Homo sapiens: one gene and its partner. Each later gene encodes a partner of the first gene's protein in a complex. Each region holds a gene or a part of one and is shown on either strand. Other genes may lie near its edges. A codon is read from its position in the direction of its gene.

Region 1 (7,018 bases):
ACCGTCTGTCTGGTAACCGGTGGGTCAGGAACTCCCTTCATGAAGAGAAACCATTGTTTTCATTTTTCAGGTGCAGAAATGGAGAACCAGAGAACAAGACACTTGCCTGAAATCACTCAGAGGTGGGATTCCAACCCTGGCCTAACAATTCAGAAACTGGCACAGGGATGAAGAGAACGGGAAGACCCCTCAAGCCGGGGCCAGCCCACGTGAAGGAGAGATGGGCCCAGCCTCATACCAAGACACCATTGGATGCCTGCTTCTCCACGTAGTCGAACTCACTGACAATGAAGGCCAGCAAGTACGTGGACATCTTGGGCGTGGTGTGGAACTCAGTGACATTCCAGTTGGGGTCTTCTGGAAGTGGGGTGCTGGGACCTGGGCAGGGAGCATGTGTGTGTGAGGACGTACCCTCCTGCCCCACACCCCAGCCCAGGGTGCCTGCCCCCTGGCCCTGTGGCCGCAGGCAGGGCCCACTCACCTTTGGGAAGCATGTTGGACAGGGCTGTCAGGTCCTTGGGGTGGATAAGCGTGATGTTGAACTCGGCCTTCATGGCCGGCTCATCGAAGCATGGGAAGGACTTCCGGGCATCTGCAGCCTGCATCTGTGTAGTGGCCACCACCCTGCCCCAACAGGAAGGTTAGAGGGTGTGCCAGAGCTGGGGGTGTGGGAGGGGCTCTGAGGATGCTACCAGGCATGCAGGGAAAGGGGTACATGGAAGGCTGCCCCAGCCTAACCCCTGCTCCTGCTCCCACCCCCGCCTCGCCGGGAGCCTCCGGAGCCCTGCCAGGCCAGCTGACTCGTGGGGGTTGGGGCTCCTTCTGGATTCGGGGTGCCAGCAGGCTCTCAGGGACCTCGGGTGAGTTTCTCTCCTCTGAGCCTCGGTTTTCCTGTCTGTCCAAGGGACGCTCTGTCCCTCATCCCCAGCTCCCTGGTGAGGGGTGGGGAAGCCCTCCCAGTTCGGTGCATTTGCAGCTGCTTTGCCAGCAGCTGGAGGTGAAGCAATGGGCCAGTCTCGGGCTCCACAGGGTTCAAAGGCCTGCAAGCTAAGTCCTTCCTTGGCCCTCAGAATCCAGCCTTGCCTCAGCACCTCGGATCCACCCCACCGGGCAGCCCAGCCGGAACTCACTTTCTGACATTGCCCTCCATGTACTCGCTGCGGTAGAAGCCCGCCAGGTCATCTGCCAACTCCCCCTCGAACTCGCTGTCCATCTCATACTGGCTGTCCTTCACCAGGGAGCCCTTGAGGTGCACCACCAGGTACTCGGTGGGCTCCACCAGCTCAGTCTTGTCAATGTCGGGGGGCTGGGAGCCTCCCACACCACGCAGGACCACCCTGTGCCCCTGGCTGAGGGTGTAGTTGAGCTTCTTGCTGTGGATGATGATGACGTCAGTGGCCTCCTTGCAGGTGAAACGGACGGTGCTGGAGCCCTTAAAAACGTACAGGCCCCTGTCATTGGGGGTGAGGTACGGTCTCAGCGTCACCCGGTAGGAATCGGGTTTCAGCGTGTTGGGGAGGCGGTAACGATTCCACGCTTTACTTTGGTCCAAGGTGGTGGCCGAGGCGGGGTTGGTGGTGGCTGAGGCGGACGGGGTGGTGGAGGCCACGGGGGAGCTGTTGGCGTTCTTGTTCTTCTCCTGGGAGTACACCACTGACAGTGCGATGATTGTGCACACGGCTGCCACGCCCAGGAGGATCCCCAGGATGCCCAGGGACTTGGAAATATAGAAGCCCTTGGCCATGGTGATGGTGGGGAGGCGGCTCAGGGAGCCTCAGGCCAGGCAGAGAACGGAGCAGCCCCAGGCCGGGCTTATATCCCCAAAGGGGAGGAGCCCCACAACAGGCAGACTGGGCAAAAATTAACCAGGGCTCCAACAGGCGAAGGTCACTGGACTGGGCAGGGGCACGCTCCGCCTGGGGAGAGGAGATCCAGGAACGGTGTGTGGAGCTGGGCTCGGGGGGTGCCTGCTGGAAGCAAACAGTGTCTGGTTACAGGCTGCAGGCGGCCTGGGATCAGGCCCGAGGGCTGAAGGGCAGGCTTCCGGCTGTAGGCCCAGTGGGCAAAGCAAGCGGCCAGGTGGCATTGCATTGATCTGCTTGAGAGCTGAGAGGGTGGGAACAGCATCAGAACTGAGGTTAGAGTCAGGGAAGGACTTCCCAGGGGCAAGAGGTGGGAGGTGCACAGAGAAGGGGTTCCCGGCTCCTATTAAGAACACACTGGGGTCACCCCTTTGGTTGCATCTCTGGAAGGATGCCAGGGGCTCCTCAGTGACAAGGTCCCAGCCTCCCTTGCATTCTTCAAGAGCAGGGAGTTCCTCCAGGTTCCCCTCCCTGCCGCTTCTTGCCAAATACTTTTTCCTCCATTATCAGCTCACGGAATAAAATGAAATGAGTTGTTTTGCTTTTTTTGCTGAAGGCTTCACCTCTTTCCAGCTGTGACCTTGAGCAGGTAACTTTACCCTTCTGAACCTCTCTCCTCATAAATAAATAACAGTATTTGCCTCTCAGGTTTGTTGAACAGATTTAGTGAGAAAACATATTAAACACCAAATAGTAGAATGATTAAAAATCATTCCCGGCTGGGCGTGGTGGCTCACGCCTGTAATCCTAGCACTTTGGAAGGCCGAGGTGGGTGGATCACGAGGTTAGGAGTTCAAGACCAGCCTGGCCAACATGGCGAAACCCCGTCTCTACTAAAAATACAAAAAAAATTAGTTGGGCGTGGTGGCGGGCGTCTGTAATCCCAGCTACTTGGGAGGCTGAGGCAGAGAATTGCTTGAATCCGGGAGGCAGAGATTGCAGTGAGCTGAGATCGCACCACTGCACTCCAGCCTGGGTGACAGAGTGAGACTCAAAAGAAAAAAGAAAAAAATCGTTCCCTTCTTTCTTACCCAAAGCTCAACAATTGCCTCTTTCTATCCTTGGTAGAAATGAAGATATTACTTACCATACAAAATAAAATACACACCTTACAGGAAAATTATGTTCATTGTCACTTTCCCCATCCACCAGCCCAGTTTCTCAGACCTCGACACCGCCTGACCTCACTCCACATCCAATTCACCCACATTCCCCCATCGCAAGATGCACTTGGTCAAAACCATTCTCATCATTTATGTGGACACAGCAGCGCCCCTATGGACTCCCTGCCTCCATTCGGGCCTGCTTGAACCTGCTCAACACAAATTGGATCATTTTATGCCACTGCTAAAAAAAACCTTCCTTTTGCTTGTAGAGTCCAGACCAGACCTTCTAAAGGCACCCACAAGCCCGGGTACAGTCAGCCTGCCCATTTCCTGGCCTCTTCCCCCCTGTTGCAGTACCCCAGCCACTCTGGCCTTCATCAAGCCCCAGGGCCTTGGCACAACCTGTTCCCTCTGCCTGGATCTTCTCTTCCCTATTGCCTTGGTTAATTCCTTTCCATCCTACAAGTCTTCCGCAGCGAAGCCGCCCTGACCTCCCTGACCAAGTCAAGCTCCTATGAGCTCCATTAGCTCCACAGACCTGTTCTGCAAAGCCCCAGAACTCAGCGTGGTTTTCCCTTTGATCTGTGTGGTGATAACTTGAGTCCTGGACTGCAGGCCCCATGACAGCAGGGCCTCACCAGCACTTAGCACAGTGCCTGGCACACAGTAGGTCCTCATTACTGAGATGTTGAGTGGATGCGCACATGCACGAAGGATTGAGTAAATGAATGAATGAGTCAGTCCAGGAGAAACTCCTTACCAAAGTCTTTCTGGCCTCTGTCTCCCAGCTTGTCCCCACCCCACACCTGCCCCCAGAAGAAGTGCCTGCCTCTTCTGAGCCCTTCTCCAAGCATGGCAGGCAGGCCGGACTCGTGCCAGGCCCCAGCATGTCAGGGCCCCACATGCCTTCCTGCTCCCTCAGCTCTGCTCCCTGAGGGCCTCACTCGTCTGCCACCCCTGCCACCCCTGCCACCCCTGAGCTTGCAGGAAGGCTTCTTAAATAAATGCAATGTGTGAACTGAAGGGACACGTGGATTAGTTCAATCAGGCATAAGCAAAACACAAATACCTGCCGCCTCTCGTCTGGTGTATGGAGGCCGAGTCTGAGCCCAGGGTCTTTAGGGGAGTCCTGGGTGCCCACCTTTGAGACTGAGGGTGTTCTGAGCCTTTGGCATTTCCCCAAGGGGCCTTGGTCTGGGACCAGGATGGACCTCCCACTGCAGTGACTAGCAGACACCCCATTAGGCTTGGGTGATGACCCCAAGGGGCAATCGTGCGAAATCAGGTGTCAGGAAGGGCTCCAGCTTGGGCGTGGTGAGAGAAGGAGCAGTGGCTCCCAGCACATGCTGCCAGGCTCCTCCCATCAGGGTGGATGGAATTCGCCAAGGGAGCCCATCTTTACAGCACCCCCCAGGCTGGCACTGGGGCACCATGCCTGCCCCTGAAAAGCCTTTTGATATGTCCCTGACGGAGCCTGCAGCCCCCTCCCACCTTTGCAGCAGAAAGACCCACAAGTCGGCCTGGACTAATCCCTTTTCTAAACAAAGAAAGAGGCCCTGCCTGGCCCACCATACTCTCTTCCTGTTTGCTTTGGATTCAGACCATAGGCCCAGCTGGCTGGAATCTTTACTCTTCTGGACAAGGCCTCTGGTCTTCCAAGTTGGTGCAGCAGGTAGCCCAAAGTTGGCTCTATAATGAGAGGTCCCTGCTCTAGGCACCAGGCCAACCCAGGCTGGGGGCACAGAGACAGCCATGCTCTGCAGCCCCCACCTTCAGGAACACACAAAAGGGCTTCCCTCGTCCAGTCCCCTGCCACAGCCCAGGCCTGGCCACCTCCACACCCCATCGGGCAGTGGCGGCTATGCTACCCTCCCCTGTCACCCAACCCCACCAGCACACGTCAGCAGAGGGCTCTGCCTAAGAGTGTGGGTGGGACTCTCCCATTCAAACCTGGTGCCCAACCTGCAGAGTGAAACCTTAACTCTGGCTTGGGCCTTAATACCTTCTGTGAACTTGACCCTCTGGCCTGTCCTCTTTCTACTGCCCACTGTGGCTCCAGCTGCCAGCGTCTCCCCAGATCATCGGGGCTTTTTCATACCTCTGTGACTTTGCTCATTCTGTTCCCACTGCCAGGAATGCCTTTCCTCTCCCTCTTGTCAAACTCCTACTCATCCTTCAAAACCCAACTCAATGTCACTGCCTTATCATGCACACCAGCCCCCACTCCCCTCTGCGCTTCCCCAGTCTCCAGTTCCCACCTCTATCACAGCACTTAGGAAAATGCCACTGAGGCTGAGCGCGGTGGCTCATGCCTGTAATCCCAGCACTTTAGGAGGCTGAGGTGGGCAGATCACGAGGTCAGGAGTTGGAGACCAGCCTGGCCAACATGGTGAAACCTCGTCTCTAATAAAAATACAAAAAATTAGCTGGGCATGGTAGCAGGTGCCCGTAATCCCAGCTACTCAGGAGGCTGAGGCAGGAGAATCGCTTGAACTCGGGAGGCAGAGGTTGCAGTGAGCCGAGATTGTGCCACTGTACTCCAGCCTGGGGGACGGTGTAAGACTCTGTCTCAAAAAATAAATAAATAAATAAATAAATAAATAAAAATACAAAATTAGCTGGACGTGGTGGCGCACGCCTGTAGTCCCAGCTACTTGGGGGGCTGAGGCGGAAGAATCGCTCGAACCCAAGAGGTGGAGGTTGCAGTGGGCGGAGATCGTGCCACTACACTCCAGTCTGGACGACAACAGAACGAGACTCTGTTTCAAAAAAGAAAAAAAAAAAAGAAAAAGAAAAATGCTACCAGTGTGTTCAAAAGCCTGCTGCTGCACCCAAGCACCTCAAAGGAAGGCCTGGTGGCATCGTATGCCCCTCCATGCCCAGCACAAGGCAGGAGCCCAATACATGTTGGCCAAATGAATGACAACACCCACAGTCCTTGCCGTGACCTACAGGGCCTGTGTGATCCAGCCCCCAGTGATTCTCTGGCCTCATCTCAAACGCTCTCCCCTGTCACTTCTGTGCTCCACCCCAGTGGCCTCTTTCAGTTCAAATCCAACCTGCTTTTCCCCGCTTCATTCTCCCTTCCTCCCTACACACAAGCTGATCCTTGGGCCTGGAAAGCTTCCTGCCTTTGCTTCATCCACTCCCCACTTGCCCTGGAGACACAAGTCAGTGGTGCTGCCCCCAGGCAGCCCTCCAAGTGCCTCCATGAGGGTAGCACCAGGTGTGCCGTATCCTCTACACCTGGCGTGCAGTGGGAGGGCAACACGTGCTTGTGGAATGGGGCATCAGTGCAAGAATGAGAGACAGCAGTTAAGGATGGAACTTCAGAGCCTTGATCCTCGGGACAGGTTCCACCCTCTCTACCCGACATTCCTTCCTGGGCTTCTGGGCTGTGCACAAACCACCTTCGTGATCCACCTTTGTGATTATTTACTTCGTATTTTTCTTTAAATCAATTCACTTTCTTAGCCTCCTTCTGAGCGATAAAATCATGGTTGGATGTGTTAATTTATATTAACAATTCATGACTATTGGTTTAAAAATTGTTCCTGGGCCGGGCGTGTTGGCTCATGCTTGTAATCCCTGCACTTCGGGAGGCTGAGGCGGACGGATCACGAGGTCAGCAGATCGAGACCATCCTGGCTAACACGGTGAAACCTCATCTCTACTAAAAATACAAAAAATTAGCCGGGCGTGGTGGTGGGCGCCTGTAATCCCAACTACTCGGGAGGCTGAGGCAGGAGAATGGCATGAACCCGGGAGGCGGAGGTTGCAGTGGGCCGAAATCGTGCCACTGCACTCCAGCCTGGGCGACAGAGTGAGACTCCATCTCAAGTAAAAAAAAAAAAAAAAAGAAAAAAAGAAAAAATTGTTCCTCTAGGTAGCTCCTAAAAGGATCCTGTCCAGTTGCACCCGCTTTGGGAACTGCTGCTCCACCCTGTATGATGTTGGGGTTGCTGGCCCTGCGGGTTGTCTTTGGTGCAGGCTCTTTCTGCCAGTGAGCAAAATGCATGTGTTCCTTTCGCTGTGAATTTCTTGACGGGG
Region 2 (7,172 bases), on another chromosome or scaffold:
GTACACCTTATATAAATACAATAAAAATTATTATTAAAAAAGAAAGAACAGGCTGAGAATGGTGGCTTATGCCTGTAATCCCAACACTTTGGGAAGTTGAGGTAGGAGGATCACTTGAGACCAGTAGTTCAAGATCAGCCTGGGCAACATAGCAAGACCCTATCTCTACAAAAAATAAAAATAAAAAAATTAGCCAGATATGGTAGCATGCACCTGTAGTCCTAGTTACTCTGGAGACTGAGGCAGGAGGATTCTTTGAGACATGATCATGCCACTGCACTCCAGTTTGGAGGACAGAGCAAGACCCCAACTCTAAAACAACACACAAAAATACAGCCATTTCTCCTGGGTGAAATGGGGGAGCTCAGACTATTTTGTTTTATTTGTCAGGAGTCTAAAGCCCATGTGAGCCAACTTAAGAAAATTCTGTTTGTATTTGAGTGTTCTTTATTGGAAAGAAATGGACTTTTCCCTAATGAGCCCATTTTACAAATCGAGAGCTCCAAATGCCCGGTTCCAGCCCCCATGATATAGATGGGCAGCAATGAGGACCAGAAATGCTGGGAAGTGTCCTTGTCATGCAAGGAAAACTTGGAACTTCAAGGATCCATCATGGGATGCAGGACAGTAGGCTCCACCCCTCTTCCTGCTTTCCAGTAAATGATGTTCAGGGCTCACATGCCTCTTCCAAGGCATGATGTGGGGTTGCAGTTCTGATCCCAGCAGAGAACAAGGCTCCTGTGAAACAATTAGTTTTGGCTCAGAGGCAAAAAATGGAAACCCCATTCCTGTATTTACCCTTCATTCTTTCCTTACCTCATACAGCTGGTTCCAGGTTTGATTGCATCATATACATAAATAAATAATCTGCTTTCCTGGTTTGGTTTAGTTTTGCTGGAGAGAGGAGTTTATGTGTTCATCCCATGACTAGCTGGGTGGTCAAGAGATTGGAAAGTAGGAGTTCTAGTTTAGACCAAGTCTCATCTCAGAAACCACAGAGTAGAACTGATCCCAAACGTCATCATCCCTGTAGGGAAAAGAAAGAGAGATCAGACTGTTACTGTGTCTATATAGAAAGGGAAGACATAAGAGACTCCATTTTGAAAAAGAGCTATACTTTAAACAATTGCTTTGCTGAGATGTTGTTAATTTGTAGCTTTGCCCCAGCCACTTTGACCCAACCTGGAGCTCACAAAAACATGTGTTGTATAAAATCAAGGTTTAAGGGATCTAGGGCTGTGTCAAAGTGGCTGGGGCAAAGCTACAAATTAACAACATCTCAGCAAAGCAATTGTTTAAAGTACAGCTCTTTTTCAAAATGGAGTCTCTTATGTCTTCCCTTTCTATATAGACACAGTAACAGTCTGATCTCTCTTTTTTTTCCCTACATATCCCAATAGCACCTGCCTGACTAATACATCATGCTCTGCTGACTCCATATGTGGCTGGTTTCCTGGATCCGATTCTGACTGATGGTATCTGTTCTCACGCTGCTAATAAAGACATACCAGAGACTGGGTAATTTATAAAGAAAAAGAGGTTTAATGGACTTATGTGTTCCACGTGGCTGGGGAGGCCTCACAATCATGGTGGAAGGTGAAGGAGGAGCAAAAGCACATCTTACATGGTGGCTGGCAAAAGAGAGAAAGCATGTTCAGGGGAACTCCCCTTTATAAAACCATCAGATCTCATGAGACTTATGCACTATCACAAGAACAGCATCAGAAAGATCCACCCTCATGATTCAATTACCTCCCACTGGGTCCCTCCCATGACACATGGGAATTATGGGAGCTACAATTGGAGATTTGGGTGGGGACACAGCCAAACCATATCAGATGGCTTATTTGGTTTCTATGTAGAACCTCTGCTTTTCATTCAACAGTCTTCATTTAGCCACAGATAAGCTCTGTCCCTAACTTCCACTGATGGAATGTACACATAAGAAACTTCCACTGATGGAATGAACACAGAAGGTGCCTACTGGGAAGAAAACTGGCCTGAATCTGAGCTGGGTCAAATGTCTGCAGTCAGTTTGAATGGCTGCTCCTTATGGGAATAATTTACATTCTCAATAAAATTCTCTAGCAATTTTCTGATTGATTTTAATGAGCTTTAAAGCCTTACGTAGAAGATCCCCCAGCTGATAGTCAGCCTTGGGCATGGATTAAGGGCTTTTAACCAATCTTGCAACAAGTTTAAGCAGATATTCTTTATTGGGTCCAATCTAACCAAAATTATTTTCTTATGTTCTCCCCAGTAACGTGTCATTATTAAGAGAAGTTTGGCTTGCTTAGAGGCCAAATTTAGAGGGTCCTGAAATTTTATTTTCTTTTACACCACTTTCCAGCATGTTACCTGATCAGTTGTTTATTATCTTTGCTGTTGAATGGAGTGATCATTCCAAGGGCCCGAGGCAGGAGGCCCAGGCACAGTGGAAACTCTCCCAAAGACCAGGATCTTTGTTTTGTTCCCTGACATATGCTGAGCACCAGGAATAGTGAGTGAATGAAACAAATTGTGAGGCTTTAAAGAGCCGAAATATTTAAACACTGGGCACAAGGTTGTTGCTTAATCAGTGCTAGATCCTTACCTCCCCCTTGTGTCCAGGTGGACTTGTTACTGCAGTTAAACCACTTGCTGATCCTCAAACAACTAGTTAGTGGCACAGCCAGGCCTAGGACCCCAGTCTCTACTGTTCCAACTAACCCATTCGCAGGCAGGAGCACTTTGAATGGTCTCTTATTTTAAAAAAATTAAATTAAAATTGTCTATTTATTTAGAGACAGAGTCTTACTCTGTAGCCCAGGCTCGAGTGCAGTGGTGCAATCATAGCTCACTGTAACCTCCATCTCCTGGCCTCAAAAAGTGTTTGAATTACAGATGCGAGGCACTGTACCTGGCCCGAATGTTCTGTTCAGACAAAGCCACCTCTAAGTCGCTGTGGGGCCCCAGACAAGTGATTTTTGAGGAGTCCCTATCTATAGGAACAAAGTAATTAAAAAAATGTATTTCAGAATTTACAGGCCCATGTGAGATATGATTTTTTTAAATGAAGATTTAGAGTAATGGGTAAAAAAGAGGTATTTGTGTGTTTGTTGATTGTTCAGTCAGTGAATGTACAGCTTCTGCCTCATATCCAGGCACCATCTCTTCCTGCTCTTTGTTGTTAAATGTTCCATTCCTGGGTAATTTCATGTCTGCCATCGTGGATATGCCGTGGCTCCTTGAACCTGCTTGTGTTGAAGCAGGATCTTCCTTCCTGTCCCTTCAGTGCCCTAATACCATGTATTTAAGGCTGGACACATCACCACTCCCAACCTGCCTCACCCACTGCGTCACTTGTGATCACTGGCTTCTGGCGACTCTCACCAAGGTCTCTGTCATGCCCTGTTATAATGACTACAAAAGCAAGTCTTACCTATAGGAAAATAAGAATTATAACCCTTTTACTGGTCATGTGAAACTTACCATTTGCAATTTGTACAGCATAAACACAGAACAGCACATCTTTCAATGCCTGCATCCTGAAGGCATTTTGTTTGTGTCTTTCAATCTGGCTGTGCTATTGTTGGTGTTTAACAGTCTCCCCAGCTACACTGGAAACTTCCAGAAGGCACTTTTCACTTGCTTGTGTGTTTTCCCCAGTGTCTATTAGAGGCCTTTGCACAGGGTAGGCTCTTTGGAGCAGCTGAAGGTCACACATCCCATGAGCGGGCAGCAGGGTCAGAAGTGGCCCCCGTGTTGCCTAAGCAAGACTCTCCCCTGCCCTCTGCCCTCTGCACCTCCGGCCTGCATGTCCCTGTGGCCTCTTGGGGGTACATCTCCCGGGGCTGGGTCAGAAGGCCTGGGTGGTTGGCCTCAGGCTGTCACACACCTAGGGAGATGCTCCCGTTTCTGGGAACCTTGGCCCCGACTCCTGCAAACTTCGGTAAATGTGTAACTCGACCCTGCACCGGCTCACTCTGTTCAGCAGTGAAACTCTGCATCGATCACTAAGACTTCCTGGAAGAGGTCCCAGCGTGAGTGTCGCTTCTGGCATCTGTCCTTCTGGCCAGCCTGTGGTCTGGCCAAGTGATGTAACCCTCCTCTCCAGCCTGTGCACAGGCAGCCTGGGAACAGCTCCATCCCCACCCCTCAGCTATAAATAGGGCATCGTGACCCGGCCGGGGGAAGAAGCTGCCGTTGTTCTGGGTACTACAGCAGAAGGTAAGCCGGGGGCCCCCTCAGCTCCTTCTCGGTCTTGTCTCTCTCAGATGTAACTGAGCTGTGGGCTAGGAGGAAAAGGCCGGGAGGAGGCACGGTGATGACTGAAAAACCTCTCCCCTCTCATAAGACCAGTCATCCGGACGCGGGCTTTCCCCCACTCGGTGCCCACCTGGGGTCTTACAGGAGGAGCTGCTCCTCCTCAGCAATAGGACAAGATGGTCAGGTCTTCCTGCTTCCGCTGAGAAAAGTTAGGGTCCTCAGGAACGGAGCAGACTGGTACAGGAACAGAGTCATCATGGCCAAGAGTCCACCGGGTCCTCTTGCCATCAGGAGGAATAGCAGGGCTTGTGCAGGAATTGGGGCTGGAGGGAAGGGCCGGGCTCGGTCAGTCTCCAGCTGGGATCCCCAGAGTGGTCACCCTACCCCTCCCTCGAGACAGACTGCCTGACTGTGTGTCATCAGGCTGGTCACCATCTCCCTGAACCTCGATTTGCTCACCTATAAAATGGAACTAATAACGATGCCTGGGCTCCCTGTCTCAGGGGCTCTGGTATAGCTGAAGAGAACTAATATAACATGAAAGTGCTTTCTAAGCTTTGGGATAAGCTAAAAGGCAGATTCCAATTTTATTCGAGGGCAGCGTAGATTGGTGCTTCAGCTCGTGGATGACAGAGTCAGGGGGCCTGGTTCTGAGTCCTAGTTCTGTCTCTTCCCAGCTGTGTGACGTTGAACAAGTCACTGGACCTCTCTGTTCCTCTGCAAAACAGCATGAACCAATTCATTAACTACTTCTCCAGGATGCAGTAGGTCCCAGGGACTATCCTAGGAATGTGGGCTGTATTAGTAAACACAACAGCGGGAACCCTGTTCCGGGGCTCACATTCACATCAGAGCAAACAGACAAAGACGCTGGACAGAATAAGTGCATAACTACATGGTACAGAGGGTTATAAGGAGGGAAAAGGGGAGCTGGATGAGAGAGTTGAGAGTGCCCGGTGTGGTGGGGAAAGCTGCAGGGTGAAATACTGCATCAGGGAAACCTCAGGGAAGGTGAGGACTATGGTGAGGTCAGAGGGGTTGATATGAGAACAGTGCCCTGCAAATGGCAGGCACCACAGGAGCATGAGCCGTCATCTTCACCTTTAGCATTCAGCCCGGGAGAAGTAGGGAGACATAGAAGGGGCAGGTGCTGGCCAAGAGGCAGGGGCAGGAGAGGAGAAGGCGGAGGGGCACTCAGGGCGAGGGTGTCAGGCCCGCCACCCCAGAGCACCATTACTCCCAGGACGCGGCTGCGTGCAGACCTGGAACCAGCCTAGGGAGCAGCCGCAGATCACAACTGAGAACAAACGACAGTCTCTGCCTCAAAAATGGCCCATGGAATTGCGTCTCTGGAGACGCTGCCTGAGCAGGAGCAGCACAGTGAGCGGGCTGCATCGACCAGCGCCATCCAAACCCCGAACAGTTGGCGCTTGTCAGGCAGGACTTCCCAGCAGTCGGTTCCCACAGGTTTCCCCTGTTGACCTGATTTGATGTGACTGTCTAGATTAGGTGTGAACTGGTGGCTTAGGCTTCTCTGCACAGAAAGGCCTGCAAGCAGCAGAGAGAGTTTTCTGTTCCATTTTTCCATGTCATGTGGCTCTTCCTGAGAACAGCGGATGGAGTCAAATGCATGGGGAGTGGGGTGAGATGGTAGCTGAGGTCAGAATTTGGCATTTGAATGACTGAAGCAGAACAAAACACACCAGGTACTTCAGCAGCTGCACCGTGTTGAGGGCAGGTGCTGGTTACGGGTCTGGGTGAGGGAAGCCAGCTGCCAATGTAAGAAGAATGACTGGGTATGCTTAGATGAAGCAGAAAAATCTAGGCATCAAGGTGGCCTTGAGTCAGTGATGACACGCTACAGCTCCAAGGAAGCCTGGCCTAGCCCTGGGGGGACAGAAAAGGCCAAGAAGTGACGATATTGCAGTACACCCCCCTCCACAAGAAATGAGTGAGATGTGGTACAAAATGTTAGAATTGAATGAATCAATAGAATAAACGTTCATCCCTTCAATCAAGAAGAGTCAGATGAAATGAATTAGCAGGGCCAGCCCAAGAACCTCTTCTGGGGGTCTCAGGGTAGCTTTCATTTGTAGCAGCTGAGGCTGAAGCCCAGCTGCAAGGCCTTTGAGAGAACGTGGTGCTGGACCCGTGTCTAGGGCAGGGGTTCTAAACCCTGCTTACATATCAGAGTCACCTGAGAATTTTCTATTTTTTTTTTTTTTTTTTTATACGTGGTCCCAGCACAGACTAAGGAATCCAACTATCATTGGGCAAGCCATGCTAGGTATGCATGCCTTTGGGGCTCTGCAGGGGATAGCGCTATGCAGGGATGGTTGAGAGCTGGTTTTGGGGTTGAGACACGTGGGAAATACTTGGACTTTGGGCTGAGCCTGTGGTGCTCAATCCCGGCTGCATGTTGGGACCACAGGGAGATGACAAAACCATCCCCAGCCCTCACCCTAGGGCCCTCGAATGAGCATCTCAGGGGTCTAGGAGGCCTCCACAAAGACCTACTGATTGGCACACACTTGTTTCTCTAGGAAGAGAACTTACAGCTGCAGGCAGGAGCATGTCTTAATCTGCTTGGGCTGCCATAAGTACCACAGACTGGGAGGGTTTAACAACAGAAATGTGTTATCTCACAGTTCTGGAAGCTAGAAGCCTGGGAGCCAGCCATCAGCAGAGTTGGTTTCCTCTGGGTCCTCTATCCTTGGCTTGTAGATGGCCGTCTTCTCTCTGTGTCCCCACATGGTCTTCCCTCTGTGTCCCCACATGGTCTTCCCTCTGTGTGTGTCCATGTCCTCATCTCCTCTTCTCATAAGGACACAGGTCATATTAGATCAGGGCTCACCCTCATGGCCTCATTTTAACTTAATCATCTCTTTAAAGATCCTGTCTCCAAATAATGGTCACATTCTGAG

Evidence for each region. Proteins that work in one complex are often made in the same cells at the same time.
Region 2: the proteins of ANPEP (region 1) and AGT are in contact, whole or in part, in a crystal structure (PDB 4FYS), measured with the Homo sapiens proteins. Residues at the interface, in NP_001141.2 of Homo sapiens: Gln211 (codon at 608), Gln213 (codon at 602), Ala351, Gly352, Ala353, Met354, Glu355, Arg381, Val385, His388, Glu389, His392, Glu411, Glu418, Asn438, Arg442, Phe472, Tyr477, Ile864, Phe896, Ser897, Asn900, Gln903, Ala904, Arg907; in NP_001369746.2 of Homo sapiens: Val27, Tyr28, Ile29, His30, Pro31, Phe32.

Annotation. Positions count from the first base shown.
Region 1 is NC_000015.10:89,804,840-89,811,857, forward strand, and holds part of ANPEP (aminopeptidase N precursor), read right to left. Parts: intron 1,971-7,018; exon of another isoform or gene 1,968-1,970; 5' UTR 1,745-1,967; coding exon 1,131-1,744; intron 625-1,130; coding exon 482-624; intron 379-481; coding exon 239-378; intron 1-238. UniProt on the Homo sapiens protein: Broad specificity aminopeptidase which plays a role in the final digestion of peptides generated from hydrolysis of proteins by gastric and pancreatic proteases.
Region 2 is NC_000001.11:230,711,123-230,718,294, reverse strand, and holds the start of AGT (angiotensinogen precursor), read left to right. Parts: upstream 1-4,172; 5' UTR 4,173-4,209; intron 4,210-7,172. UniProt on the Homo sapiens protein: Essential component of the renin-angiotensin system (RAS), a potent regulator of blood pressure, body fluid and electrolyte homeostasis.